Homo sapiens: one gene and its partners. The protein of the gene in region 5 interacts with the protein of the main gene of each other region in a biochemical or structural test. Each region holds a gene or a part of one and is shown on either strand. Other genes may lie near its edges.

Region 1 (4,012 bases), on a different chromosome or scaffold from region 5:
ACACCCTAGGTGTGCATTTATAAATAAGTCAACAGAAATAAACAAAATGTACATATGTATACATATAAATTCCATATGGCATGTGGGGCTATATTAGTTTGAACCATATATGATTGCCATTGTAGGTCAAAACAGACTATATTTATAGCAAAACTGTTTAGACTGTAGCCATGTGGAGCCAAGTTTCAGAAACCTGTTGAGTTTCATATCCCGGGAAGCCACTTTCTAGTGTATATGGGAGCAAGATTGCCTAAAATGTGTTAACACATGCTGCTCATGGTCTAGAGGATGATTCTAGGTGATACACAGGTCAACATTTTTTGTTTCAGTAGCCAGCTATTTCACAGGTATTATTGCTTACAATTGGAAAAAATTTTTTTGAGTTAACATTAAAGATGTTAGTTGAATATGGCAAAAAATGTGAAAATGATATGTAATGGATTGAAGTTTGGGAAACATTAGAAGACAGAGAAGAAAGAGAGAAGAAAAAGAGGAAAGGATCAGACAAATAAAGATAATGATAACTTCATTAAGATAAAATGAAATCATAAAGGCAAAAAATCCATATACTGGAAACATAAAAATTACCTTAGCCGTTGTTGCGCAGGTTGCAGCTCTGACCTGAGACATTTTGGGAGGCACTTTTCAGGGGCACTCCGCATTCTGAAAATGTAGAGAATTTTCCAAATAAGAAAATTTGCCTTAACGAGAATTCAGGGAAAGCCACTGACAAGCTACAGACTTCCAGCTAAGTCATGTTAGTTAGGATGATGCTTGGGAGCATCAGTGATGCACTTTCAACATCAATTAGAAATCTGGGAGGCAAATGGAATGCTCGATAGTATTCATATCTTGTTTAGTTTGGCAAAAGAATGAAAGTTTCAATATTTTGTTGAAAAATCGTTTCATAATTTGGAAAGTGCCTAGCACAATGCCTGGCTCAAAGTGAGTTCTCAATGGCTGATCACTACCACTATTGTAATTTATGTCATTAATCTTCCTGGTTCTTCCCAGCGTGGGATCAGAAGGGGGAGAGAATACTTGGGCACATGGAAATAGAAGGATGTATGAGAACCAGGCTGGTCATGTAGCTTGATGCCTTTTCTTCCTGTCCTGGGCAAGGAATGGCTACAAGAGGTTACTATCAAGAGTTCCAAAGTAAGGAGAGATGGACTCCTGCCATCTGTAAAGAACTGGATATTTTGAATGTTTAATAAAACTCTTTTTAAGATAAACTTTTATATTGACTGCAAAAAATAAAAAGGAAGCTGCATAAGGCTTGATAGGGCATAATTTTTTTCACTATTCTATGGGTAAAGCCATAATAAAATAAACAACTTGATTATATTGACAAAAAGTGTTTATAAAGATATATTTAATGCCATGAAAAAATTTCAGTAGATAACATTAAGAAAAAAACATAAGAGAGAGCAGCTTTAACATTATATATAGTTTGTGCTTAATTGTATATGCACATACATTATAAACTACTAAGCAAAAAAAAAAAACAGTTAAGCCTATATGATCTTAAGAGGGAAGCATTTTGTCATTCAAGCAGCTGGTAATGGAAAATAAATTAATGTTAATGTTGAAAAAAGAAGCTTGTAGTACTTATATAATTAAACTTTATTTTACTTCATTTTTCAGACATTAGTAAATTTACTTGGTGCCCGAGATACTAATGTTCTATTGGGTTCCCTTCTGGCTCTGGCTAGTTTAGCAGAAAGGTAAGTAGTGTATTCTAATATACTTTCCAGTTCTGCTACTATAGCAATTTAGGTGGTAAGGATGCAAAATAATCAGTTACTTTGTCAACTACTTAATACAATTTCTTGATAAATAAGTGTGAAATAACATGTTGAAGAGAATCCTGGATAGAAGGCATTATTTAAAAATTTAAACTGGAAAGGCAAATTGCAGTTTAAAATTTTCTTTTTATTTCCTGACTGGAAATATTTAGTCTTTTCATCTAACCCTCAGTTACTTCTAATTTCAAAATTACCATAATATTTCTTTGGCAGTTGAATCTTTCTGACCATCTTAATTCATTCTTACCTGTGAATTTTAACATACAGAACGTTTTCAAACATCTGTGGGCTTTGAAAAATTTTCAAGAAGATCTTTCCTCTTATAAATGTCATGATTATTTTAAATGTTTTTATGACAATAAGTGGACCATTGCTTTTCTGTGAATAACATATGATTCCTTTTGTTTTTTGATCTCTTCTCCCAAGATAATATTGGAGCTAGGATATTAAATAAATAAATTTATATGGTTAGGCTTTGTGTCCCCAACCAAATCTCATCTTGAATTGTAATCCCTGTAATCCCCATAATTCCCTCATGTCAAGGGAGAGACCAGGTGGAGGTCATTGAATCATGGGGCCATTTCCTCCATGCTGTTCTCATGATAGTGAGTGAGTTCTCATGAGATCTGATGGTTTTATAAGGGGCTCTTCCCCCTTGGCTCGGCACTTATCCTTCCTGCTGCCTTGTGAAGAAGGTGCCTTGCTTCTCCTTTATCTTCCACCATGACTGTAAGTTTCCTGAGGCCTCCCTAGCCATGCTGAACTGTGAGTCAAGTAAACCTCTTTCCTTTATAAATCACCCAGTCTCAGGCAGTTCTTTATACCAGTTTGAAAAAGGACTAATACATGGATCTAGCAAAATATGCTTTTAGTAATTGCTAATATTTTTCAATTTATAGTCAAGAATGTAGGGAGAAGATAAGTGAACTCAACATTGTAGAAAATCTGTTGATGATTTTACATGAATATGACTTGCTTTCTAAAAGGTAGGATTGCTAACAGTAGAAAAAGACAATGCAGTGCCTTTATTTGACAGATACACTTGTTATTATTTTTATTACGTCATGTTATTTACATTGTAACTGAATATGATGAGTCAGCTTGGCATTTATTTTCTGTTTAAGTTTATATAAAGAAAATAGAGCAAAGAAGTATATCCATTTATGTTTAGTCCTGCATTACTTCTAGATCTGGGCATAGAAGCTGATGAAATAAATTTTTGTGATATCATTTTTAATGTTTTGTTTATTGCATTTATTTATATCCTGCCTTTTTAGGGAAAGAAACTCTGAGGTGGCTCTAGTTTTAGTAATTTCAAATTGTATATTACAATAAGTGATTAGGTTGCTAAAATCCATTTGCATGAAGGCAAGTAAAATAAGATAGCAACTGACTTGTTTTGTGATCACCTGCTATGATAACTCAAAATCTAGAGTAAAATGGATTCATTTTTACTTGAACTGCATATTGTTCTAATAACTATCCAGATAGTTATTAGATTGTACTTAAATAGAGTTGCAATCTATATCATTTGATATTTAGTTGAGTAATTTTCTAAAGAGGCAAAATAGATAAAAAGAAATCTCCAGCAATGGAGCCCTGACACTTAACTCATAGTAAATCCTTTTGGATTCTTCTTCAAAACTCTCATAAAAGAGCATTAAATATAGATAATACTTATAGACTTGGTTATCTGAACAAACAAGGTTCCAAGCTTGGTACCAGGTGTTGAAAACCAAAGATGAATAAGTTATAAATATGTAGTGTAGAAGAGGGTCAAACAGTGCTATAACTGATACGGTAGACAGATGCACAGGGTACTCTGGGAACATGGAGCAGAGACTTCCCAATTAGAATGTGGAGTCATGCAAAGTTTCCTGGAGGAAAGAGAAGATATCTAGGCAGAGAGAGAGAGACAACATAAAAACAGTATGTGCTTGGACATGGAGGCATGAAATTGGGTGTGTTAGAGGAATGTGATGGTTGGGCACAGCAGGACCATAAGAACAAAAGTGCCAGAGAACTAGAACAGATAGTTAATGATAAATTTAAAATGTAGCTAACTTTGATCAGTGTTTTCTATATGCCAAGACCTGCTCTAAGCACTTTGCTTATTAACTCATGTGATCTGCACATTAACCCTATTTTTCCCGTATTTTATAGATAAGGCAACAAGACACCTTTATCCAGGTCATGATGGTCTC
Region 2 (4,012 bases), on a different chromosome or scaffold from region 5:
AAAGAACCCAATTTGAGGCAGAGGTTGCAGTGAGCCGAGATTGCGCCACTGCACTCCAGCCTGGGCGACAGTGCGAGACTGTCTCCAAAAAACAAAACAAAACCAAACCAATCAGAAGGAACCCAGTGTAAGCTTGCCACCTTCAACAGCTACCAGCACACCACCAGCCTTGCTTTCTCTGGTGACACTGTGGCCCACCCCCTTTGTTTTAGAGGAAATTCCAAACATTTTACTTCAAAAAATATGAAAAGACATAAAAACACCGATATTTGAAGTCTTCTTGAAATGTGGCATTTAAGGTCTTGAACTGTTGAGCTTATTCATTGGAAAGTTTATTTTTTTTAAAGAGAGAGGATCTTGCTATGTTTCCTAGGGAGGCCTTGAACTCCTGGGTTGAGGTGATCGTCCTCTCTCCTCAAGTTCCAAGCACCATTGCGCCAGGCTTGTTCCCTTAGATTTGTGCGCTGGGAGTGACAGAGGAGGGCACAGGCCTCAGTGTTACCATCTTGGTCTTCGGTCCTTGTTGTTTGTGTGCTAATTCAGTATTGCCAGATTCAGGATTTTAGGGACTAGTAACATTAGGAAAAGTGAGGGCCAAAATGAAGCTTCATATTTGATAGAGCAGCTTTAAACTACCACACTGAAAAGTCGCTTGGTTCTTTTGGGAGGTGTATGAGGTGTGTTTTTCATGTCCTTTTAGGCAGCCTTCAGTGCCAGCTGGAGTTGTCTTCAAAACATGGTCATTGTTCTTGCCATGGCACTGGCTACCTGAAACTGCTTGCAAGTGGTTTGTTTCTAAGCTCGTTTTCCCATTTTGTGGAATGTGAGATTTTCTTCTACTTTTTAAAAATTGAGAAGGGGTCTCACTCTGTTGCCCAGGCTGGAATGTAGTGGCATGATCACAGTTCGCTGCAGTCTTGACCTCCCAGGCTCAAGCGATTCTCCCATCTCGGCTTCCTGAGTAACTGGGACCACGGGTGGGTGCCACTGTGCCCAGCTAACTTTTTTGTATTGTGTTTAAAGGTGGGATTTTGCCGTGTTGCCCAGGCTGGTCTTGAACTCCTGGGCTTAAGTGATCCACCTTCCTTGCCCACGCAAAGTGTTGGGATTATAGGCGTTAGCCACTGCATCCAGCCTATGAGATTTTTTGAGGAACGCAGATGGTGTCATGTCAGAAGTACCAGTGCTTCTAATGTCATTGTTTTTGTTCTGGGATATAAGTAGCATTTGGAATGTAAGTGTGAAGACTGTCAGTGGAGAGGGGCACACTAGCCCCAGGCCTTGCATCCGGGTGGTCCACTTCGAGGGTGAATGAGCCTGTAGGGTGTTAGGTTGGCGCCTTTCTGGCACATCTGCTTTCTCCCACTTGCCTAGGCCCTGGCATGTTTGTTTTCGTGCTGCAGATATGGTCCTCTAATTGGGTTTTTGTAGTAAGATGGTGCACTTCTGTGGTTGCAATAATCTTGTACTTGGTCGTGTGATTTTAATGTAGCATGTCTGGGCTCTGTGCAGTAGAGTGAAAGAAACGATCTAATGGAATAAAGAAAAAAATTTTTTTTTGCTTTTGAGATGGAGTTTTGCTCGTTGCCCAGGCTTGAGTGCAATGGTGCAATCTGGGCTCACTGCAACTTCTGCCTCCTGGGTTCAAGCGATTCTCCTGCTTCAGTCCCCTGAGTAGCTGGGATCACAGGCATGCGCCACCATGCCTGGCTAATTTTGTATTTTTAGTAGAGACTGGGTTTCTCCGTGTTGGCCAGGCTGCTCTCGAACTCCTGACCTCAGGTGATCGGCCCTTCTCGGCCTCTGAAAGTGCTGGGATTACAGGTATGAGCTACCTCGCGTGGCTAAGTCCCCCCCGCGCCTACTCTTGTTGCCCAGGCTGGAGTGCAATGGCACGATCTTGGCTCACCACAAACTCCGCCTCCCGGGTTCCAGCTATTCTCTTGCCTCAGCCTCCTGAGTAGCTGGGATTACAAGTGCCTGCCACCACGCCTGGCTAATTATTGTATTTTTACAAGAGATGAGGTTTCACCATATTGGCCAGGCTGGTCTCAAACTCCTGACCTCAGGTGATCTGCCCACCTTGGCCTCCCAAAGTGGTGGGATTACAGGTGTGAGCCACCATGCCTGGCCGTAAATACTTAAATATTTCTAATAACTTGTAAAAATTCAACATACTGAATTTTTTTTGAATTGTTTTTCAGGAGAGAGGTACAGAAAGTTTTCCCTGTTGCTTTGTTTTGTTTTAAAGAAAAGGTGGCCATACTCCTTGAAATTCAGTTGTAAAACATCGAAAACTGATTTACAACTGGGGAAATACCTTATCTATTGAATTAAGGGTTTAAAAGGAACTTGGCCTTACCGACTTTTCTTTCAATTTTTAGCTAAGAAACGGGACATCTATGACAAATATGGCAAAGAAGGATTAAATGGTGGAGGAGGAGGTAAGTACGTGAGTTTTTTCTTTGAAGACAAAAGGTCTTGGCAAGTAAGTTGAGTTTGTAAATCACGAGTCTCTTGGTCAGAGTCGATTTTGTATCAGTAAATAGAGATGCAACGTAGAAAGCGAACTAAATTGGGGAGAGGACAGAGAAATTGATGGCATTTAAAAGTCTTTTACGAGACTAGAAGTATATGTTGATGTATTTTTTATAGATAGAAACAATTTGTAACCATACTGCAATATATTGTGAACATATACCCTTAGATCAGCACTTGACGTTATGTCAAAATATCCTAAGGGTTTAAAGAGCAGATTTTCCTGAAAAGCTAAAATAATGACTTTGAAGGGCGTGGACTTTGTCCCCAAAAGTTCCCACGGTCACTGGGCTGTGACCAGCCTCCCCAGGGGTGTTGGGAAATTATTGCTCCAAACCCACTGGGGCCACGCGGCAGCTTCTGTGGCTCCAGGAGGCCAGTCGTCGAAGTGGATGCAGATACTCTTGGTCTTCATAAACCTTCATAACAAATCATAAAAATGGTGTGTAATGTTACATGTTATATGCCGATCACGGATTTAGAGATGGTGAAAAGTAGTGTCGAAGGGGCCACTGCTGCACTCATATGCCATCAGCGCTGGGCACACTCACTCTCTGTCAGTACAGGGCTCATGTTTTGAATTATAGAGAACTTCAGGTTTATGAAATATTTTTGTTTTTATTAGTTCATGATTTGTATAATGTTTTGTCAACAAAGAATTCTTTGCCTACAAAGCACCAAAATTCATAAACTAAAAGCTGTGTTGTATTTGTGCAGGTGGAAGTCATTTTGACAGTCCATTTGAATTTGGCTTCACATTCCGTAACCCAGATGATGTCTTCAGGGAATTTTTTGGTGGAAGGGACCCATTTTCATTTGACTTCTTTGGTAAGTTAATCACGTGGGTTGACTTGGTGTGTGTCCATGACCCAAATGAGGGCTTACTTAGTATGGCCTTTCTGTTGAATTAACATTGTATTTTAGGCTGGGCGCGGTGGCTCATGCCTGTAATCCCAGCACTTTGGGAGCCTGAGGCGGGCAGATCACCTGAGGTTGGGAGTTCAAGACCAGCCTGACCAACATGGAGAAGCCACGTCTCTATTAAAATACAAAATTAGCCGGGCATGGTGGCGCATGCCTGTAATCCCAGCTACTTGGGAGGCTGAGGCAGGAGAATCACTTGAACCCGGGAGGCAGAGGTTGCGGTGAACTGAGATCATGCCATTGCATTGTTGTCTGGGCAACAAGAGTGAAACTCCTGTCTCAAAAAAAAAAAAGTTAACATTGTATTTTGTCACGAAACTTTGTGTTTAAAGCAGCATTGGACTAGCCTGAACAACATGGTGAAACCCTGTCTCAACAACAACAAAAAAAATACTAAAAATTAGCTGAGTGTGGTGGCGTGTGCCTGTGGTCCCAGCTACTTGGGAGGCTGAGGTGGGAGGATTTCCTTGAGCCTGGGAGGTTGAGATTGGGCCACTGCACTCCAGCTTGGGTGACAGAGCAAGGCCCTGTCTCAAAAAAATAAAACAGC
Region 3 (4,489 bases), on a different chromosome or scaffold from region 5:
TTCATTTAGACACCCTGTCTTAACATTTTTTTTTTTAGCCTTTACGTTAACAGAGGCTTCTGGTCCTAATTTCATATCATACCCAGGTTCATTTTCATTATCCATTAAATCTGCTATTTTATGTCTTCTATATTCTTATCTTAAAATACTAAAAGAGAGGACAAAGGATACAACCTTGGGGCACATCCCTAGGGTCTTTCCTCTAGAGTGACTTTTATTCAGTAATGAACTCACTTTGTCTGGCTCTTAAAGCTAAGAAATTATACAACTTTTTTTTTCCATACAACTTTTTTTTGGAGTGCAGGGGCACGATCTCGGCTCACTGCAACCTCCGGCTCCCTGGTTCAGGCGATTCTGCTGCCTCAGCCTCCCGAGTAGCTGGGATTACAGGTATGCGCCACCACACCCAGCTAATTTTTGTATTTTTAGTAGAGACGGGGTTTCACCATATTGGCCAGGATGGTCTCGATCTCCTGACCTCGTGATCCGCCCTCCTCTGTCTCCCAAAGTGCTGGGATTACAGGCATGAGCCACCGCGCCCGGCCTCCTATACAATTTTTTAGTATCTCTCCCTGCCAAGTCAGGTTTCTAGATACCCAGAATTTCACTATCTGAGATTCATTCCTTTGGCTGATGGTTCTGTTCTCCTTTCAAACAATTTTCCTGTCTGACTCTTCAAGCGCATATTAATGCAAATGGACTTAACAGTTCCTTTTCCTGTGGACCAAGTTTGGGGAGGGAGGCAGGACTGATCCTTTACCCTTCAACCTGAACCTTGGTCACAGGCTGACCACTGCGTCCAACCCAGACCAAGCCTTGACCCTGACTAGTCAGTGACCCAGGCCACACCCTAACTCCTGGTCACAACCTGAACCCCTGCTTCAGGTGTGAGAACTGATAGACCGGCGTTGGAATGGAAGGAGGGTGAGGCAAGCTGAGTGGGATTCTCGTGTCCCCAGCCCCGCCCGCGGGCCGCCAGCTTCCCAACCTGCACAGGCCCAGCAGGGCCCCTCCAGGTCTAGGTGAGCAGAGCTCCACCTACAGGTAAAACGCGGCAAGGGGCAGAGAAGGAGCCAAGTGGCGACGTGGTCATGCGCAGAAAGATCCGTCCGGCTCTCTGAGCAGAGGGTAGCGTGTGGGGGCGGGATACCGACGCGGCTCGGCTGCCGATTGGTCAGAAGAGGATAGAAAGGGGCGGGAAGCCGGCGCGGCTCGACTCCCGATTGGCCAGAGGCGGCAGAACGGGGTGGGGCCAAACGACGCGCGTTCTGTGGCGCGCGGCCTGGCGGGCGTGCAACGGCCGTTAGAGGAGCTGAGGGAGGGAACCACCGCTCACCGCAGACGTGGTGGCTGCAGTCAGTCTTCCCGAGTGAGGGATTTCGCCGCCCGCTTTCAGGCCCGTGTAAGTTTTCCTCCTTCGGGAGCCTCAGTCCTAGTGGCCGACCTTGCCTCTCCTCCCATAGCTCCGGCGAAGCCTCAGACGCTCGCGACCTGCCACCGTGAGGGGCCGGGGAGAGCGAAGCGCATGCGCCTCGGCTCCGAAGCCAGTGCCCCGGCATACGCCCTCTCGCGTCCCATTCCCCTCGCTTCCCCCGTTGCCTTGCTTTGCCGTCCGTGGTTCACCCCACGGCAGTCACTTTACCTGCGTGCCAGGCCCTGTGCCGATAGCCAGGGACACAGCGAGCGGCGCATTCCTTGCCCTTGCGGAGCGCACAGCCCTGGGAGTCGACGTTAAGCGGGGTAATCCCTCGGCGCGCAGTGAGGGTAGAGTGGAGAAATCTTACAAAGAGCGCAAAACAGAAGGCGCGGATCTAGTCGGAGAGGTCAGGGAGCCCTCCCCGAGGAGGAGAAGTTTGAGCCGAGATTGGAAGGCTGTGTAGAGAATTAAGGTTGTGGGACGGAAAGCACTTGGCGGGGCCTTACCCCGGTACTTCTCGGCCGGGGCGATTTTGCTTCCCTGGGGACATTGGTCGATGTCTGGAAACACTTTTGATAGTCACAGCTCCAGGGCTTGCTACTGGCATCTAGTGCGAAGAAGCCAGGGATGCTGTTACACAGCCTACTGTGTGTAGGACGCCCCCAACAACAAAGAAAAATCCCCCAAAATGTCAGTAGGGCGGAAGGTGAGGAAGCTTCCTTCAGCGAGAAGGAGCTGGTGCTTTGGTTGAACTGAAAGTTAGTGTGTTCAGGTTTATTTGTTCAACAGTATATTCAACGCTTACTTCACCTCAGTTAATGAGAGCGATCCTTTACACCAGTACATTCCCAACACGTGGCTCAGAGCCAGGCGCATAGTAGGCACGCAGTAAATTTCGGTTGATGAATTGAACACTGGGATAAGTAGGGGGCGGTGGTGATACAAGGACGATGAAGCTAGCCAGGCCTCATTTATTTGCCCTCAAACCTTGTCTGCTTTATAGTGATCTGGTGGTTTTGTATGTCTCACGACTTTTCTTTGTAAAGGCAACTTCTTGTCAAGGATTTGGCTTCTCTTTCACAAGGTTTAATGAATGATCAAGGCGGTGAAAATAGTGTAATGGTGTGAGATCCTTCGTGTGTCTGTGTCAGCTGTCTGTGTATCCCTTCAAATCCTCTCTTGTCTTGATGTGGTTCTCTTAACAGCTGCCAAGCATGATGTTCCACACTTAGATTGTAATTCTTTTTTTTTTTTTTTTTTTTGTGAGACGGAGTTTTGCTCTTGTTGCCCAGGCTGGAGTGCCGTGGCGCGATGTCGGCTCACCGCAACCTCCGCCTCCCAGGTTCAAGCGATTCTCCTGCCTCAGCCTCCCGAGTAGCTGGGATTACAGGCATGCGCCACCATGCACGGATAATTTTGTATTTTTAGTAGAGACGGCGTTTCTCCATGTTGGTCAGGCTGGTCTCAAACTCCCGACCTCAGGTGATCCGCCCGCCTCGGCCTCCCAAAATGCTGGGATTACAGGCGTGAGCCACCACGCCCGGCCACACTTAGATTGTAATTCTTATAGGGGAAAAATACTTACGGCAGTCAAAATCTAATTCTTGGGTAGCAACTTGAGAAATAAAGCCTAGGTGATGACCAAGGACAAAGTGAAGAAATTTTATGAGCTTTTACTGCTCATATAATTGAGGCTTGCAGCTCTAGCTGTCTGAGGCAGAAACTCCAACTTGTGGTGCCATGCTTGATCTCTTTTTTTGTGTTTTGTCACATGTAGAATGCTGACTAGACTACTGTAGCGTTAGAGTACAGTCCTGGCTTTGAAGCCTCTTCCTAGCCATATGACCTTCACTACTGTAAACCTTTATTTTCTCATCCATAAAATGAGGATAATAGTAACTGCCTCATAGGGTTGATGTGAACATGAAACATGAGACATGATACTTAAAAAGTGTTGAGCACAGTGTTTGATAGGTAGTAAGTGCAGAATGCATGTTAAATTTGTTGAATGAGTGACTGTTTCTGTAGTTTAAAGGGCTTTGAAGATGGAAACCAATCCTGTTGGGTGCTTTTTTTTTTTTTCCCCTCTGTCTGCCTCCATTCACTCCCTTTCTAAGCTTTATAACTGGTGTGTTACTTCTTGTACATTCACTTCTCTCATTTTTATCCCAGGAAATTTCTGTCTCCTTCAGTTGTCCCAAAAATTTCCACCAGTAGCTCATCTAATTCTTAAGTCAAGAATGATTTATTTTGTATTGTTTTACTCCTTACGGGGTTTCTTTCTTTCTGTTTTTCTTTTTTGAGATATTTGTTGTCAATGAGGGTCAGACTCTGAAATATTTGAAGGGATTTATTCTGAGCCAAATATGGGTGACCAGTGGCCCCTGACACAGCCCTCAGGTGATCCTGATAACGTGTGCCCTGGTTTTAAACATTTTAGGTAGACATGAGACATCAGTCAAATACATGTAAGATTTACATTGATCTGGAAGGGTAAGACAACTCTTAGTGGGTGGGGGCTTCCAGGTCATAGGTAGATTTCAAAATTTTCTGATTGGCAGTTGGTTGAAAGTTGTTATCAATAGAAAGGAATGTCTGGGTTAAGGTATCCTGGGGATCAACATTTTATTGTACAGATGAAGCCTCCAAATAGTAGGCTTTAGAGAGAATAGATTATAAATGTTTCTTACAGACATCTGTGTTAATGTTAATGCTTTTCCTAAATTCCAGAAGGGAGGAGGGTATAATGAGGGGTGTAGGACTCCACCACCACTACCACCATCATGGCCTTAACAGGTTTTTCAGCTTAACTTTGGAATGCCATTGGCCAAGGGGAGGGATCCATTCAGGTGGTTGGGGATGTCTTAGAATTTTTTTTTTGGCTTATATCACATAACATAAAATTTAATTTTATGTGTGTGCAATTCAGAGGTTTTTAATATATTGGCAAGGTTGTGCAGTCAGTCACCACTATCTAATCTCAGAACATTTTGATCACCCTGAAAAGAAACCCGGTATCCATTAGCAGTCCCTTCCTATTCTCCTACCCTCCCTCCTCTCAGTCCTTTGCAA
Region 4 (4,012 bases), on a different chromosome or scaffold from region 5:
TAGGGAGGTTGAGGCTGCAGTGAGCCATGATTGCATCACTGCACTCCAGCCTGGGTGACAGAGCCAGATCCTGTCTCCCGAACAAAACAAAAAAACGAAACCAAAAACCAACACCAAAAAATAAAACAAAATTGATTTTTAGAGTTCCAGATACATTTCTTACTAATCTTTAGTTGGGTATGTATGTTACAAATCTGTATTCTAGTTCTGTTTGTTTCTGCTGTCTTTTATTGTAAAGAAAATGTGGGTTTTCACTTAGTGATATTTGTCATTCTCCCTTAATTTTATTTTTCTTAAGAAAGGCTTCAGGGCTGAGTGTGGTGGCTCACACCTGTAGTAAAGAAAAGAAACCCTTCTCCACCCTGAGGTTATACAGATATTTTCATATTTTCTTCTGCAAGTTTTACTAAACTTTTGATTTTCACATTTAGGTCTTTGATCCACCAGGAATTAATTTTTGTATAAGGTCTGCGGAGGAATTGAATTGGATAACCAGTTGACAATAGACAATAATCAATTGTCTAATCACTGTGGATTGAATTGTCTGTTTTTTCCCCACTGTTTTATAATTGTCTTAGCTATTTTGGGCATTTCAAATGGATTATATGACAGATTGGTTAAAATCATTATACAAGGGAATTTCTTGTAGGTTTTTAGGATGTAAGAGAAAAGACATTATAATTTTATTTTTGTTTCACATCAGCTGATATTGATGGTTTAAAATATATTTTTATTCCTTAATAACATTTAATGATAAGCTTATGTATAATTTGTAAGTAAGTCAAGAAGAGAATGATTTTCTGCCAGTGAATATACAACATAATACTATAGCAGTGTAGTTAGGTGGATGTGTCTCTAGCATGGCTTTTGTTTAAATAAAGGACCTCAGAGGTGTTGCGTGTAATAGGCCTTGTGGCTGGGCGCGGTGGCTCATGCCTATAATCCCAGCACTTTGGGAGGTCGAGGTGGGCGGATTACAAGGTCAGGAGTTCGAGACCAGCCTGACCAACATGGTGACACCCCATCTTTACTAAAAATACAAAAATTAGCCGGACATGTGGTGCATGCCTGTAGTCCCAGCTACTCGGGAGGCTGAGGCAGGAGAATCACTTGAACCCGGGAGGCAGAGGTTGCAGTGAGCCAAGATCGCGCCACTGCACTCCAGCCCGGACGACAGAGCGAGACTCCATCTCAAAAGAAAAAAAAAATAGGCCTTGTATATAAGTATGTAGGGTAGGATATCAAACTCTGGTTACTTGACAAGTGATGGTTCTAACCACCTATTACCCAGGTATCAAAATGAAACTTAAGGATATATCATTTCTTTATCTCTTGTTATTTTTTTCCTCCTTGGTTGTCTATTGTCCTTTAATCTGACCACTTTTCTTCTCCCCCTTCCTTGATTTTTCATTTTGTCTTAAGTTAAAAAGCTTTTATTTTATTTTATTTTTTCTTCTTTTTTGAGACACAGCCTCACTCAGTCGCCCAGGCTGAAGTGCAGTGGTACAATCTCAGCTCACTGCAGCCTCTGTCTCCTGGGTTCAAGCAATTCTCCTACCTCAGCCTCCTGAGTAGCTGGGATTACAGGCACCCACCACCATGCCTGGCTAATTTTTAATTATTTATTTATTTATTTTTTTCTAGAAATGAGGTTTCACCATGTTGTCCAGGCTGGTCTTGGACTCCTGACCTCAAGTGATTCACCTGCCTCGGCCTCCCAAAGTGCTGGGATTATAGGAGTGAGCCACCATGCCTGGCCTAAGTTACAAAGTCTTTAAAAGTGTTTTTGCTTACAGTCTTTTTCCTGTTATAAAAATATCAGCTAATTGGCAATATTTGTCCAACACCATGGGTGAGAAGGATATTAGTTCCTGAGGCATTTTGGTATTGTTGAAACATTCTTTTCCCTCATCCTTTGTTTTTTAGGATTAAGTTTCACATTGACTTATTGGCATCTGCTATCTTTTTTGGTGTAGTAAGTGTTGCTCCCAGCTTTTAGACTTCCTTTAGCGTTATTTTCTTAATGGGTCTGTGGCTGCTATGCTTAAAGGACAAGCACCTCTCTGTCCCTATAGCACCTTGTGGAACATTTACAGTTCTTCACCATGGAGACCTGTTATGGCGATCTCTGTTGCATTCAGGGAGGCCTTTCTTTAGTTTCCTCCAGTTAAGAAATGTTGAAAATGAAGTGTCTTGTGAAGTAGTTCCAGTTCTTACTGACTTTTAATGCAAGCTCAGAACTGTGTTTAATCTCATATTTAAAAAAAGCATGAAGGGAAATGATGAAGGATTTAAAAAATTTTATTATGTACAGTCTCCCTCATATTTAGTGTAATTTTTAAATGATAGCAGTTGGATGAAAAATCTGTTATTCAGTGAAATTGTTATTGTATCTGAAAACTCGCAAACTATTTTCTTGGTCGGTAAACGTACCCTTAGTAAGCACTTGCTTATTTTCATTTGCAATATGAGAATTGTAGTGACTCAGAATTTTACTTCTCATTTGTACTAAAAGTTTTTTTTATTCTTATCTGGAGCAGCAGCTTTTACTTTCATTTGTCATGGGATGAATTATCTTAACCTTCTCTTCTAAAAAAAGATCTGCTTAAAGAAATCTAGCATGTGCAGTGTTTTGGTTTGTCCCCAGCAGTACTAAGTCCTTGAGGTGGAGGGTTGAAGGGGAAGAACTTTTTTTTTTTCAAACATTAATACCTTATTAGGTTCTCTTAAGTTACCTGATAATGAATAAACCTTTATATTTAATGGAGAGATTGAACCTAAGAAGGTCATTGTGGCAGATATCTGGGAATGGCCATTGTCCCCTGAAAATTATTGACATTCTGAAGTGGCCACCTGCTTATAGGTGTTAAGAATAGGCTGTGTATATATGTATGTAGGGTAGGATATCAAACTCTGGTTACTTGACAACTATCAGTTCTAACCATCTATCACCCAGATATCAAAATAAAACTTAAGGATATATCATTTCTTTATCTCTTGTTATTTTTTTCCTCCTTGGTTGTTTTTTGTCTCTGAATCTGACCACTCCTCTTCTTCCCCTGCCTTGATTTTTCATTTTGTCATATTACTCCAGTTTTATGTCAGAAATTTGTCACTACATGATGATGTAGTCTTAAAATTTTTAGCTATTCTAGTGGGTATGTCATTGTGGGCTTTGTCGTTGTTGTTGTTGTTTTTGAGACAGAGCCTTGCTCTGCCCCCCAGCCTGGAATGCAGTGGCGTGATCTGGGCTCACTGCACCCTCCACCTCCCAGGTTCAATCTGGGACTACAGATGTGCACCACCATGCCTGGCTAGTTTTTGTATTTTCAGTAGAGACAGAGTTTCGCTGTGTTGGCCAGGCTGGTCTGCAACTCCTGGCCTTATGTAATCCGCCCGCCTTGACCTCCCGCAGTGCTGGAGTTACAGGCATAAGCCACTGTGCCCGGCCTTCATTGTAGTTTTAATGTGCATTTACTTGATAACTCTTGATTTTGGGCACGTTTAAATATATTTATTTGCTAAATGAATGTTCTCTTTTTCAAAGTACTACTTGTTTAAATATTTTGTCCATTTTTCTTTTCACTTAATTTTCACAACTCTTTTAAGCACGGCAGCTATTTTAATCTCCATTTGACAAATGAGAACATGGATTTGGGTTTGAGTCAGAATGGAGGTGAACTACTCCAAAGCTTATAAGCTAGTAAGAAAGCTTCAGAGATGGATGTAGGCAAGGCAGGTCCTCGTTGTTTTATTGGTGATGTGTATCCCGCGCCACCCCCCTGAAGCCTGACAGTACTCCACAGGTGCATACGGAGTGTGCATAATGGTTTTCTCAGTCTGCAGAGGTAATGTAATCATCTGCCTGGCCTGTTTGCTTTTGATTCTCTATCTGTAACTTTTTGGCATGTTAGTGGCTGCCTTGGAGACTTTTTTTTTTTGAGACAGAGTCTCGTTCTGTTGCCCAGGCTGGAGTGCAGTGGCGCTATCTCGGCTCACTGCAACCTCTGCC
Region 5 (4,012 bases):
CTCAGCCTTTCCTGGTTTTTAATGACCTTGACAGATACTTTCAAAGTTTACTGGCCAGTTATTTTGTAGAATATCCCTCAATTTGGGTTTATCTGATGTTTTCTCATGATTAGATGGAAGTTACGTATTTTTCACAAGAACGCCACAGAGGTGACAGGCCTTTCTTAGTGCATCATATCAGTGGGTACATATGCCCATGGCTTTTATTATTGGTGATGCTGTCAGTTAAGGTAATGTCTACCAAGTTTCCCTGCTGTAAAGTTAATATTCCTAAATATCTTGTGAGAGTTACTTTGAGATTATGCAAATACCCTATTTCACCTCAAAATTTTGTCCACTGATTTTAAAAGCATTTGTGGATCTTGCCTATAGCAGTTATTACTACACCATTAAAAATGGTGCTCTCTTGGGCACAGGGAGGGGAGCATCACACACTGGAGTCTGTCGGGGGTCGGGAGGTAGAGGAGGGATAGCATTACAAGAAATACCTAATGTAGATGACGGGTCGATGGATGCAGCAAACCACCATGGCATGTGTGTACCTATGTAACAAACCTGCACGTTCTGCACATGTACCCCACAACTAAAGTATAATTTAAAAAATGGTGTTCTAGTGGTGATTTTCTATTTTCCTCATTCCTTCTACATTAATTAATTGGAATTATTCTATAAAGAAGAGCTTCTCTGTTTATATACCTATTCAATTTTTAATTTGTATTGGTGTAGGCTCCTGGGTATTCATTTTGTTCTGTGGGTTGCAACCCAGTACTACCATCATTTGTTTTGTTGCTCTAATTATTCCAGCCTTGACCATTGGGAGCTCTTTCAGGTTGGCGCCTGTTCTCATTTTCTTTTTTAAAATAATTTTTTTTAACTTTTCATCTTGAAATGAATTCAGACTTTTAAAAATTGCAGAGAAAAGAGTTCAGAAAATTCCTTCCTGCCCCATTCATTTATTTTGTTAGTTAGTTGTATTATTACAGAAGCATGGAATTCTTATTTTATTCTATGGGTTATAATCCATTCCTGTCTACTTATTTTGTTGCTCAAATTGTCTCAAATTAGGCCATTATCTCTGATGCTTTTTAAGTGTACATAAACTGACCTTCAGATTTTTTTCCTTAGAAAACATTGAGAGCCATGCTGGTATATACTCCTTGCCACAGTTTAGCGGAAAGAATCAAACTTCAGAGACTTCTCCAGCCAGTTGTAGACACCATCCTAGTCAAATGTGCAGATGCCAATAGGTAAGGCTTTATTGATGAATCACTTCAAACCCTCTTGTCTTAAAAGTGCCTCGCAGCAAGCCTCACACCTAGTGTGAATATCTGATACATTTTATTAAATGAGTCTTTGAACATTGTCTTTTAATGTGAGATTTAAAATGAAAATGCAGCATAAAGCTCTTAAGGACTGGCGGAAAGAACTACTGGCAAGTAAAAGCCAGGCAAACAAACTGCATGGATCTCCACATTATTGTATTGTGATTTACTCTCTTTAGTAACATTCATAATCTGAAGACCAGTCGATAAGAACAGTAGTTGACATTTATATCTATAAGTTATAATCTCATATTAGAGTATGGGTTACACAGAATAGGAACCAGTAAGATCATTACACCTGCATATGCCTTATTATCAGGATAAAAAATTAACAAATCCATCTCATTTTCAGTGTAGTGGAATTTTACTCTACTTATGACAGTTTTGTCAAAAAATTTTTAGATTTTTTATATTCCTGCAATATCCTTAAAAATTGACAGGGAACAAGAATAACCCTAACTGGAAAGAAAAATATGAAGTAGAGAATTGAGGTACAATGACAGTAAAGATGAGTACAAGCCATGCTTTTTTCAGACCAATGGTTCTCTTTTATTTTCCCCTTCCATAAAATAGGAGGAAAAGATCAATTTTCATTTAATAATCACAGCTACTGTGAACAGTTATTTGGTAGTTCCTATTTCTTTCTATCCCAGCAGATCTTGGTTAGCAAGAAGTGTTGAATCTCCCTTCTGTTGCCTCTTCCATTTCACCCATTTAGAGTTCTCTCAGTACAACCTTTCTCTTCCTCTGCAAGTCATAATGACTTAGTTTGCACAGGATCTCAAAAATTAGGTACCTACCTTTAACGAATTTCTCATATCATGAAGTCTGTCTTTTGCCTCTATTGTTTTCTCTATAGATTGAAAATATTGGATGTTTCCTTGTTGCTTAGAGAAAACATTGTATATCTGTAAAATATTGCAAATTAACAAGTAATTTGCAAAATGCATAGGAAAAATGTCATTTTTAAATATTAGAATAGGTATATTTCTGAGAATTCAGTGTTCTCATGGTATTTGTTATGCTGCTCACTTTTTGAAACTCCAAACTTAGGTTGTTTACCTGGTCACCTGAATGACTGAACATAAGAAATACTGTAGAGAGATTTTATAATATTCAGACCTCATTTTGGCTATGTAAGGAAATGGAGGGTTTTTGGATAGGAAGGTTTTGTTTTTAATTCAAGAGCTTCTTAGTGAAAGTTCAGAAATCAAAATATCAAGGTCCTTGTTTTTTCTTTTAACAAAATATAAGACTTTTATCTGATTTGGTATTTAAATCAGTACTTGCAAAGAGCCATTGTTGAAAATTCTGTGCTTAACATAGGGGATATGTTAAATTTACGAAATTAGACCTAATAAATGAATATTACTACTTATGGTGACATTGTTAATATGATTTTAGTGGTGGAAAAGTAAACACTCCTGAAAACATTATTTCTCCACTTTTTCACAAGGCATTACATTACTCCTCTAATATTGTATAGTGTTTTAGCCAAGATCCAGGATTGATGTTGCTTTTCCTTTGTTTTTAGCCGCACAAGTCAGCTGTCCATATCAACACTGTTGGAACTGTGCAAAGGCCAAGCAGGAGAGTTGGCAGTTGGCAGAGAAATACTAAAAGCTGGTAATAACTTTTCACTTAAAAGGAATATAGCATATTTTATCATGTTCCTGAGCAGCCTTGTCTAATCTCATAATCTCTCATGAGGCAGTTTACAGGATTTTGAAGTAATTTTATAAATTGATTCACTGTGTTACAGTTAGAAATGTGAATTACTCTGAGAGAGAAATTCTTTAAAATAGTTCAGAATATTTTTGTTGGCCTTACACCATTTAATCATGTCTTGTTTTAGATTTTAATATCACTATTTTTTAATCATTTATTTTTACTTTCCTTTTTGTAGGATCCATTGGTATTGGTGGTGTTGATTATGTCTTAAATTGTATTCTTGGAAACCAAACTGAATCAAACAATTGGCAAGAACTTCTTGGCCGCCTTTGTCTTATAGATAGACTGTTGTTGGAATTTCCTGCTGAATTTTATCCTCATATTGTCAGTACTGATGTTTCACAAGCTGAGCCTGTTGAAATCAGGTAATTTTTCTTCTGAAAATGTATTACTTGTATCTTCCTACCCTCCCTACACCCTCCTCAAGAATGACACATTTTAGATTTTTGAAAGACTCAGAGCATGAATAGGTTGCTGATACCTTAATATTTGATTGACATATGAAAACCCAAAGTCTGGGCTCTTTAATTAAAAATTCATAGATACTTTATGCTGAAATGGTTTTTGAAGTATACATGCTGTAAATTACTACCATTTTTTAAGTTTCCATGTATTTTTCAGTAATTGGAACTTATATGGTAATGAATGTTTTTTTCTTTCAGGTATAAGAAGCTGCTGTCCCTCTTAACCTTTGCTTTGCAGTCCATTGATAATTCCCACTCAATGGTTGGCAAACTTTCCAGAAGGATCTACTTGAGTTCTGCAAGAATGGTTACTACAGTACCCCATGTGTTTTCAAAACTGTTAGAAATGCTGAGTGTTTCCAGTTCCACTCACTTCACCAGGATGCGTCGCCGTTTGATGGCTATTGCAGATGAGGTGGAAATTGCCGAAGCCATCCAGTTGGGCGTAGAAGACACTTTGGATGGTCAACAGGACAGCTTCTTGCAGGCATCTGT
Region 6 (4,012 bases), on a different chromosome or scaffold from region 5:
AAAAAATCCTATACCTATTACACAGCCACTCCCTATTCTCCCCTTCCCTCGGCTCTTGGCAATCACTAATTTGTGTTAGTCAAGCAGAAATTATGGATTTGCTGATTTCATTGGAATCATAAAATATGTGGCCTTTTGTGTCTGGCTAGTTTCACTTAGCATAATGTTTTCAAGGTTCACCCATACCGTAGCATATATCAATACTTATTCCTTTTTATGGCTGAATAATATTCTCATTTGGCTGTACCACATTTTGTTTAACCATGCATCAGTTGATGGACATCTGCATTGTTTCTACCTTTTGGCTGTTGTGAATAGTGCTGCTATGAACATTGTCTACAAGTTTTCGTTTGAACACCTGTTTTCCATTCTTTTGGGTCTATATCCAGTAGTGGAATTGGCAGGTCCTATGGCAATTCCATGTTTTACTTATTGAGGAACTGCTTTTCCACAGTGGTGATGCCATTTTGTATTCCCACCTGCAGTGTGGGAGGATTCTAATTTCTCCACATCCCTGCCAACACTTGTTATAGGATGTATTTTTAGCCATATCTACCCAGCAAGGGTATTATATTCCATTGCTCAGATGCAGGAACTGATGTATGTTACAACAAACCTGCAGGGAAGGTATTGTCATCCCCATTTTACAGATGACAAAACAAAGAGGTTCAGAGAGGTTAAGTGACTTGCCCACTAGATCTACCACTAGATTTGAACCCAGGTCTCTCTGCTTCCCAGAACCATGACCCCTTCCATTATACCTCATGGCCTCTCCTTTGATATTTTCACCGCACGAGGAAGGGTGGAGAGAGACTTGAGGAGGGTGGTGGGTGGGGTGGGGCATGTTTCCCACCAGCCCTGCCCTGTCCGATCAGTGAGACCCGCCTGGTAGAGGTGCTGGAGGGTGTGTGCAGCAAGTCAGACTTCGAGTGCCACCGCCTGCTGGAGCTGAGTGAGGAGCTGGTGGAGAGCTGGTGGTTTCACAAGTGAGTGGCAAAGGGCCTTCCCTGGAAGTGGGTCACAGGTGAGGCCTGGTGATAAGGCCTGATTTGGCCGAGAAGCAGGGGGGTGCATGCTGGGGCCCATGTCCTGGTTGTGCTCCTTCCAAACCCAGGTCTGCTAAGAACTTGCCGGGGGACTTGCGCTCCACTTTGAGCCTCAGTTTACCCTTCTGCCAAATGGGGAAAGGGCATTGGTCAGATGGCCTTTTGGGTCTTATGTCCAAGCTGGGTTGAATCACAGATTCAGGCATGGGGGAATGGGAACAGCACTTATGACACTATCTCAGCACCTCCTCCCCACCTCCCTCCACCCTGCCCCTGCCTCAGGCAGCAGGAGGCCCCGGACCTCTTCCAGTGGCTGTGCTCAGATTCCCTGAAGCTCTGCTGCCCCGCAGGCACCTTCGGGCCCTCCTGCCTTCGTGAGTTTTTAAGTTGCTCTTGGGGATGGGAGGGGACCACCGAGTCCAGGGATCCAGTCCTGGCTCTGTCCCTAGTTCGCTGTGTGAACTCAGGCTACTCAGATAAACTTCTCTGGACCTCAGTTCTTGCCTGCCTGACAGGGCTGGGGAGATGGGCAAATCAGTGGGGAAAGGCTTGGAGAAAGCACAGGGGCTAGACTGAGTCATATGCAGTATAGTTATCATCATGTACTAAAGAAATGATAGACTTCCCAGCCCCTTCATTTCCCATGCCAGATCGGACTATGGTACCTTCCTGGGGAGGGGCGGGTGCTGACCTGGAGCCTCCATGATCGCCATCCATCCTCACACACAGTCCTGGCACAAGAGCTGAACTTACTACCAGCCTCTTTTAGAGCAGTCTTTCCTGAAGCTACAGATAAAGAGCTAGCTACAAAGATGGCAAATTCAGTCTTTGTAAAAGAAAATATTGGCTGGGCGCGGTGGCTCACACCTGTAATCCCAACACTTTGGGAGGCTGCGGTGGGTGGATCATGAGGTCAGGAGATCGAGACCATCGTGGCTATCATGGTGAAACACCGTCTCTACTAAAAAATACAAAAAATTAGCCGGGCATGGTGGCGGGCGCCTCTAGTCCCAGCTACTCTGGAGGCTGAGGCAGAAGAATGGCATGAACCCGGCAGGCGGAGCTTGCAGTGAGCCGAGATCATGCCACTGCACTCCAGCCTGGGCGACAGAGCGAGACTCTGTCTCAAAAAAAAAAAAGAAAATATTTGGTCCAGTGGCTCGTACCTGTAAACCCAGCACTTTGGGAGGCTGAGGCAGGAGGATCACTTGAGGCCAGGAGTTTGAGAGACCAGCCTGGGTAGTAGAGCAAGACCCTGTCTCTTAAAAAAAAAATAGTGGGGCATGGTAGTGCAGCCTGTTGTTCCCCTAGGCTGAGGTGGGAGGATTGCTTGAGCCCAGGAGTTCGAAGCTGCAGTGAGCTATGATCATGTCATTGCCTGGGAAACAGAGCGAGACCCTGTCACTAAAAATAAATAAATAAATAAATAAATAAATAAATAAATAAATAAATAAAAGGTCTGTAAAATCTAATTGTTCCACAAGAGGAAATTGGTTAAGTAAATGTCAGTTTTATGACAAAATATTATGTCATTAAAATTAATTTTCTTCTCCAAAAATGTTTACTGATATGCAGAGCAGAAAATATTATCTTGTTTTTTTTGTTTTTTTGTCTTTTTTATTGATCATTCTTGGGTGTTTCTCCCAGAGGGGGATTTGGCAGGGTCATAGGACAATAGTGGAGGGAAGGTCAGCAGATAAACAAGTGAACAAAGGTCTCTGGTTTTCCTAGGCAGAGGACCCTGCGGCCTTCCGCAGTGTTTGTGTCCCTGGGTACTTGAGATCAAGGAGTGGTGATGACTCTCAACCAGCATGCTGCCTTCAAGCATCTGTTTAACAAAGCACATCTTGCACCGCCCTTAATCCATTTAACCCTGAGTGGACACAGCACATGTTTCAGAGAGCACAGGGTTGGGGATAAGGTCATAGATCAACAGGATCCCAAGGCAGAAGAATTTTTCTTAGTACAGAACAAAATGAAAAGTCTCCCGTGTCTACTTCTTTCTACACAGACACAGCAACCATCCGATTTCTCAGTGTTTTCCCCACCTTTCCCCCTTTTCTATTCCACAAAACCGCCATTGTCATCCTGGCCCGTTCTCAATGAGCTGTTGGGTACACCTCCCAGACGGGGTGGTGGCCGGGCAGAGGGGCTCCTCACTTCCCAGTAGGGGCAGCCGGGCAGAGGCGCCCCTCACCTCCCGGACGGGGCGGCTGGCCGGGCGGGGGGCTGACCCCCTCACCTCCCTCCCGGACGGGCTGGCTGCCCGGCGGAGACACTTCTCACTTCCCAGACGGGGCGGCTGCCGGGCGGAGGGGCTCCTCACTTCTCAGACAGGGCGGCCGGGCAGAGACGCTCCTCACCTCCCAGACGGGGTCGCGGCCGGGCAGAGACGCTCCTCACTTCCTAGATGGGATGGCGGCCGGGCAGAGACGCTCCTCACTTTCCAGACTGGGCAGCCTGGCAGAGAGGCTCCTCATATCCCAGACGATGGGCCGCCAGGCAGAGACGCTCCTCACTTCCCAGACGGGGTGGTGGCCGGGCAGAGGCTGCAATCTCGGCACTTTGGGAGGCCAAGGCAGGCGGCTGGGAGGTGGAGGTTGTAGCGAGCCGAGATCACGCCACTGCACTCCAGCCTGGGCACCATTGAGCACTGAGTGAACGAGACTCCGTCTGCAATCCCGGCACCTCGGGAGGCCGAGGCTGGCGGATCACTCGCGTTTAGGAGCTGGAGACCGGCCCGGCCAACACAGCGAAACCCCGTCTCCACCAAAAAAATACGAAAACCAGTCAGGCGTGGTGGCGCGCGCCTGCAATCGCAGGCACTCGGCAGGTTGAGGCAGGAGAATCAGGCAGGGAGGTTGCAGTGAGCCGAGATGGCAGCAGTACAGTCCAGCTTCAGCTTGGCATCAGAGGGAGACCGTGTAAAGAGAGGGAGAGGGAGACCATGGGGAGAGGGAGAGGGA
Region 7 (4,012 bases), on a different chromosome or scaffold from region 5:
TCTCTTCCCATTTATGTATTTATTTATCTGTTTATTATTTATATCAGTATGGACTCATGTATATTATTTCAGTCCATGGGTTAAAATGCCATCCTATCATATTTTTTTGTTGCTCAAATTGTTCTAGCTTTGACCTTTAAGAGCCCCTTCAGGTTAACTCCTGTGTTCTTTTTATAAGCCCCATCTCTTTTTGAGCATTTCCCAGTTTGTGGATCCACATGAGGTTCCAGGTTCATCTTGTAGTTTCCTTGCTCCAACTCAGGAATCAACCAGTTCTCCTACGGGCTGAGTGCTGGTTCCTTTCGTTGAAGAGTGGTATTTAGAACCCAAGACCCAGTGATTTTTTTTTAAAAAGCATCGTTTCTTACCTGCGTCATAAAGTAATTGTGTCTCATATTCACATAGGCCCAGATGTAAAGAAGAAAACTGAAGAGGAAGATGTTGAATGTGAAGATGATCTCATTTTAGCATGTCAGCCGGAAAGTTCGCTTAAAGCATTGGATTTTGATATCAGTGAAACTCGGACAGGTATAATGTTACTAACTAATTTCTTTTGAGGAGAGTGGGTTGGTAGTATTATGTATTGTTCTTTGAGATGATAGAGAAATTTACTAATTTTCTCCAGTTTTAGGAAGGAGTTATTAATTTGCAGATAAGATTAATTTTTTCCTGCCTGTTGGCAATTTTGGTGTTTGCCAAGTCTTATCAGAATGGCAAGGAAAAAATGGAAATTTACTCTTTTCCCCCTACTTTCTAGAGTTTTGATTTAGTGATGGAAGAAATTGAAACTAAGAAAGGCTATTAACGTTTTTAGTTAACATCATGTTTTTATATTTCTGTATTGAAATCCTTAGCTGTTTCCTGATGTTTCAGGATTAAATTTTAGTCTGTGCTCACAAATACAAATATATTAACTGAAAGTGCAGCCCTGGAAATTAAAGCTAGTAAAATGCCTTTAAGAGGTTTTTTTTGAGAGACAAGGTCTCGCTGTGTTGCCCAAGTTGACCTTGAACTCCTGGGCTCAAGTGATCCTTCTACCTCAGCCTCCGAGTAGCTGGGACTACAAGCATGCACCATTGTGCCCAGCTTGAGTTCAGTTTTTGTTTGTTTGTTTGTTTTTTTGAGATAGAGTCTTGCTCTGTTGCCCGGGCTGGAGTGCAGTGGCACGATCTCAGTTCAATGCAACCTTGCCTCCCAAGTTCAGTGATTCTCCTGCCTCAGCCTCCTACGTATCTGGGATTACTGGCACATGCCACCATGCCTGTCTAATTTTTGTATTTTTAGTAGAGATTGGGTTTCGCCATGTTGGCCAGGCTGACCTCAAATGACCTACCCACCTCATCCTCCCAGAGTGCTGGGATTATTATAGGCGTGAGCCACCACGCCCGGCCTAGTTTTCGTTTAAACAAATTTGTTTCGTAATCGAGTAGTATTCAACATAAAAATAGGTTGCTGTGATATTATGTTTCATTTTAATATTTTAAAATTTTGAATGTTATTGTTAGTTTCCCTAAGCCTCTTAGGAAAACATGGTAGACCAGGGGGAATATTCATTCTGTTTGAAGGTGAGGGGTTTCCTGTGTCATTACACAGTAGCTTTTAAAAGGTGCTCTGAGTTTTAAGGCTTTTGAATGGTGTCCAGGACTAGTAGAAGGGAACAAAGAGGAAATGAAAGAGTGGGGAGCATCCAGGGCTCTCATTTATGCTCTAGCCTAAGTAGCTCCCATTTTAATCATTTATTTGTGTGTGGATTTGACATATGATATCTTTTGAAAACAGGATCTACCATGAAAAGAAAAAGGATAAAAATCATACTCATAAATAAATACTATCAATTGGTCAGTAGTTCATATTGACCCTAATACTGTATTTGACTTATTACTATGTTAGTACAGCAGTCAAAATCAATTCAGGAAAAGAACAGTATCAGAGGGAAGGTGTAAAACATCTTACATAAACCTACTTTCTTGTCTTGAATAACTTTTCATCCTAAGTGAGGCAGGTAGTAGTAGCCAGGACGATTAAGTCTCTCAACAGAATTGAGGGTTAATTAGTGATTCTTTTTTTTTTTTTTTTTTTTGGAGATGGAGTCTTGCTCTGTTGCCCAGGCTGGAGTTCAATGGCACAAACTCGGCTCACTGCAACCTCCGCCTCCCAGGTTCAAGCAATTTTCCTGCCTCAGCCTCCCGAGTAGCTGGAATTACAGGCACACGCCACCATGCCCAGCTAATTTTTGTATTTTAGTAGAGACGGGGGTTTCACCATGTTGGCCAGGCTGGTCTCAAACTCCTGAACTCAGGTGATCCACTCCCTCGGCCTCCCAAAGGGTTGGGATTGCAGGCGTGAGCCACCACGCCCAGCCATGATCCTTAAACTTGTTTTAAGAGGTATAATAACTGGAAATCATGATGCTCTTTAAGGAATACCAATTGGATGTATTATTGATGTATTTAATTCCATCATATGAAGTAGAAACAGTTTCATTAGCAGAAGGCATTATATTATAGCTACACAATATAAAGAATATAAATTCATAGTTTTCCCAACTCAGAGGTCTAACAACAGTGAAACTGATAAATAAATTTTATATTAGCAGCTATAAATCTTTGGTTTCAGGACTCCTTTACACTCTTAAAAATTATATATTAGATATTGTACCAACTTACACTACTGACTGCAGCAGTTCAAGATTAGTCCCAACCCACTGCTTCCCCTGGGTAACCTTGGCAGGTGGAAATCATTTATAAATCAAGTATTTTAATCTTATGTACAATATAGTTAGAAACTTTTTACTTAAAATTATAATTTAAATTTAATTTTGGTAGATAGCGATTAATGGTTATTTTAGTTGATTTGCCATGTAATTTACATTTCTTTCCCAGCTGCCCCCCCATTTCATTTTTTTCAGTATTTGAATGTAAGGCTTTTTAAAAAATAAAGTTTCTTTTACATTTCTAGAAGTAGAAGTAGAAGAATTACCTCCGATTGATCATGGCATTCCTATTACAGACCGAAGAAGTACTTTTCAGGCACACTTGGCTCCAGTGGTTTGTCCCAAACAGGTAAAGTTCCTTTGTCTAGCTCACTTTGATGATTACTAAAATAATTCAGGTAAATGATTTTGCAATAATCCCCTTGTTTTTACTTTTATGTTTTATTTTCATATAAGATAAAAATTATTTGTTCATTTTTCTACTCCCAAATTACTGTGAATCACGGAAGATTTGTTTTGTTTCTGTTTGTCTCTGCTTTCTTTCTTTTTTTTTGTGATGGTGTCTCACCATGTTGCCCAGGCTGGTCTCAATCTGGACTCAATCAGCCCTCCTGCCTCCAGCCCTCCCAATCCAAGGTATTGGGATTACAGGCATAAGCCACCTAGCCAGGCCTGTCACTGCTTTCAAAATTGTATCTAAACTCTGATTAGGGGTTAACCCTCTAATGAATCTTTAAATAAGAAATACCCATTGTGTTATTAGAGAAAATTATGATGCTTAATACCTTGTCAAAAAGAATTATTTGTCCTGTCGAATGGGAGTTCTGTGAAACTAAGTCCATTCCTCTGTTATTATTCAACAAAGGGGACAGTGGACAGACTGGCTAAACCAAGTCCTCCCTACCTGACTTACTTTCCTTTGTGCTTCTTGATCTTAGGTGACCATATTTCCACCCAGGGATATAAATGGGAGAGGTTTCAGCCATAAACTATTCCTAGGTCTTTGCCTTTCTCATTCTCCTTTCAGCAGAATCCTTTTCTTCTTCCTTGCTTCTATAATGTAGCTCAGCTTACATTATTGATGTACGAGGCAATTTCAATACTACCTGTAAAGTTACATTTTTAAAAATGTCTCATTTACTGCAGGTTTTAGGCATGAGTCTCTTCCTTTGGTCTTTGCAGCTACCCTACTCTTGAAGCTCTTTAAAGCCCTGGGCTTCAGGGATACAGCTCTTTGTACCAGGCTGTTTCACTCTCTGAAAGAGGAAGTTCTTTTCTGCGTTGACTTGTGGTCAAGAT

What was found.
Region 1: of the proteins of MAP3K1 (region 5) and NEK10, one has a biochemical effect on the other in vitro, tested with the Homo sapiens proteins (one large-scale study listed by BioGRID).
Region 2: of the proteins of MAP3K1 (region 5) and DNAJB6, one has a biochemical effect on the other in vitro, tested with the Homo sapiens proteins (one large-scale study listed by BioGRID).
Region 3: of the proteins of MAP3K1 (region 5) and CEP85, one has a biochemical effect on the other in vitro, tested with the Homo sapiens proteins (one large-scale study listed by BioGRID).
Region 4: of the proteins of MAP3K1 (region 5) and STAM2, one has a biochemical effect on the other in vitro, tested with the Homo sapiens proteins (one large-scale study listed by BioGRID).
Region 6: of the proteins of MAP3K1 (region 5) and CRELD1, one has a biochemical effect on the other in vitro, tested with the Homo sapiens proteins (one large-scale study listed by BioGRID).
Region 7: of the proteins of MAP3K1 (region 5) and IMPACT, one has a biochemical effect on the other in vitro, tested with the Homo sapiens proteins (one large-scale study listed by BioGRID).

What each region holds. Positions count from the first base shown.
Region 1 is NC_000003.12:27,306,641-27,310,652, reverse strand, and holds part of NEK10 (serine/threonine-protein kinase Nek10), read left to right. Parts: intron 1-1,647; coding exon 1,648-1,727; intron 1,728-2,707; coding exon 2,708-2,794; intron 2,795-4,012. UniProt on the Homo sapiens protein: Plays a role in the cellular response to UV irradiation. Mediates G2/M cell cycle arrest, MEK autoactivation and ERK1/2-signaling pathway activation in response to UV irradiation.
Region 2 is NC_000007.14:157,364,118-157,368,129, forward strand, and holds part of DNAJB6 (dnaJ homolog subfamily B member 6), read left to right. Parts: intron 1-2,384; coding exon 2,385-2,444; intron 2,445-3,255; coding exon 3,256-3,366; intron 3,367-4,012. UniProt on the Homo sapiens protein: Has a stimulatory effect on the ATPase activity of HSP70 in a dose-dependent and time-dependent manner and hence acts as a co-chaperone of HSP70. Plays an indispensable role in the organization of KRT8/KRT18 filaments.
Region 3 is NC_000001.11:26,232,909-26,237,397, forward strand, and holds the start of CEP85 (centrosomal protein of 85 kDa), read left to right. Parts: upstream 1-1,291; 5' UTR 1,292-1,402; exon of another isoform or gene 1,403-1,740; intron 1,741-4,489. UniProt on the Homo sapiens protein: Acts as a regulator of centriole duplication through a direct interaction with STIL, a key factor involved in the early steps of centriole formation.
Region 4 is NC_000002.12:152,165,360-152,169,371, reverse strand, and holds part of STAM2 (signal transducing adapter molecule 2), read left to right. Parts: intron 1-4,012.
Region 5 is NC_000005.10:56,877,855-56,881,866, forward strand, and holds part of MAP3K1 (mitogen-activated protein kinase kinase kinase 1), read left to right. Parts: intron 1-1,125; coding exon 1,126-1,247; intron 1,248-2,856; coding exon 2,857-2,948; intron 2,949-3,228; coding exon 3,229-3,418; intron 3,419-3,715; coding exon 3,716-4,012. UniProt on the Homo sapiens protein: Component of a protein kinase signal transduction cascade. Activates the ERK and JNK kinase pathways by phosphorylation of MAP2K1 and MAP2K4. May phosphorylate the MAPK8/JNK1 kinase.
Region 6 is NC_000003.12:9,936,687-9,940,698, forward strand, and holds part of CRELD1 (protein disulfide isomerase CRELD1 isoform 2 precursor), read left to right. Parts: intron 1-875; coding exon 876-986; intron 987-1,328; coding exon 1,329-1,420; intron 1,421-4,012. UniProt on the Homo sapiens protein: Protein disulfide isomerase. Promotes the localization of acetylcholine receptors (AChRs) to the plasma membrane.
Region 7 is NC_000018.10:24,440,091-24,444,102, forward strand, and holds part of IMPACT (protein IMPACT), read left to right. Parts: intron 1-405; coding exon 406-528; intron 529-2,958; coding exon 2,959-3,062; intron 3,063-4,012. UniProt on the Homo sapiens protein: Translational regulator that ensures constant high levels of translation upon a variety of stress conditions, such as amino acid starvation, UV-C irradiation, proteasome inhibitor treatment and glucose deprivation.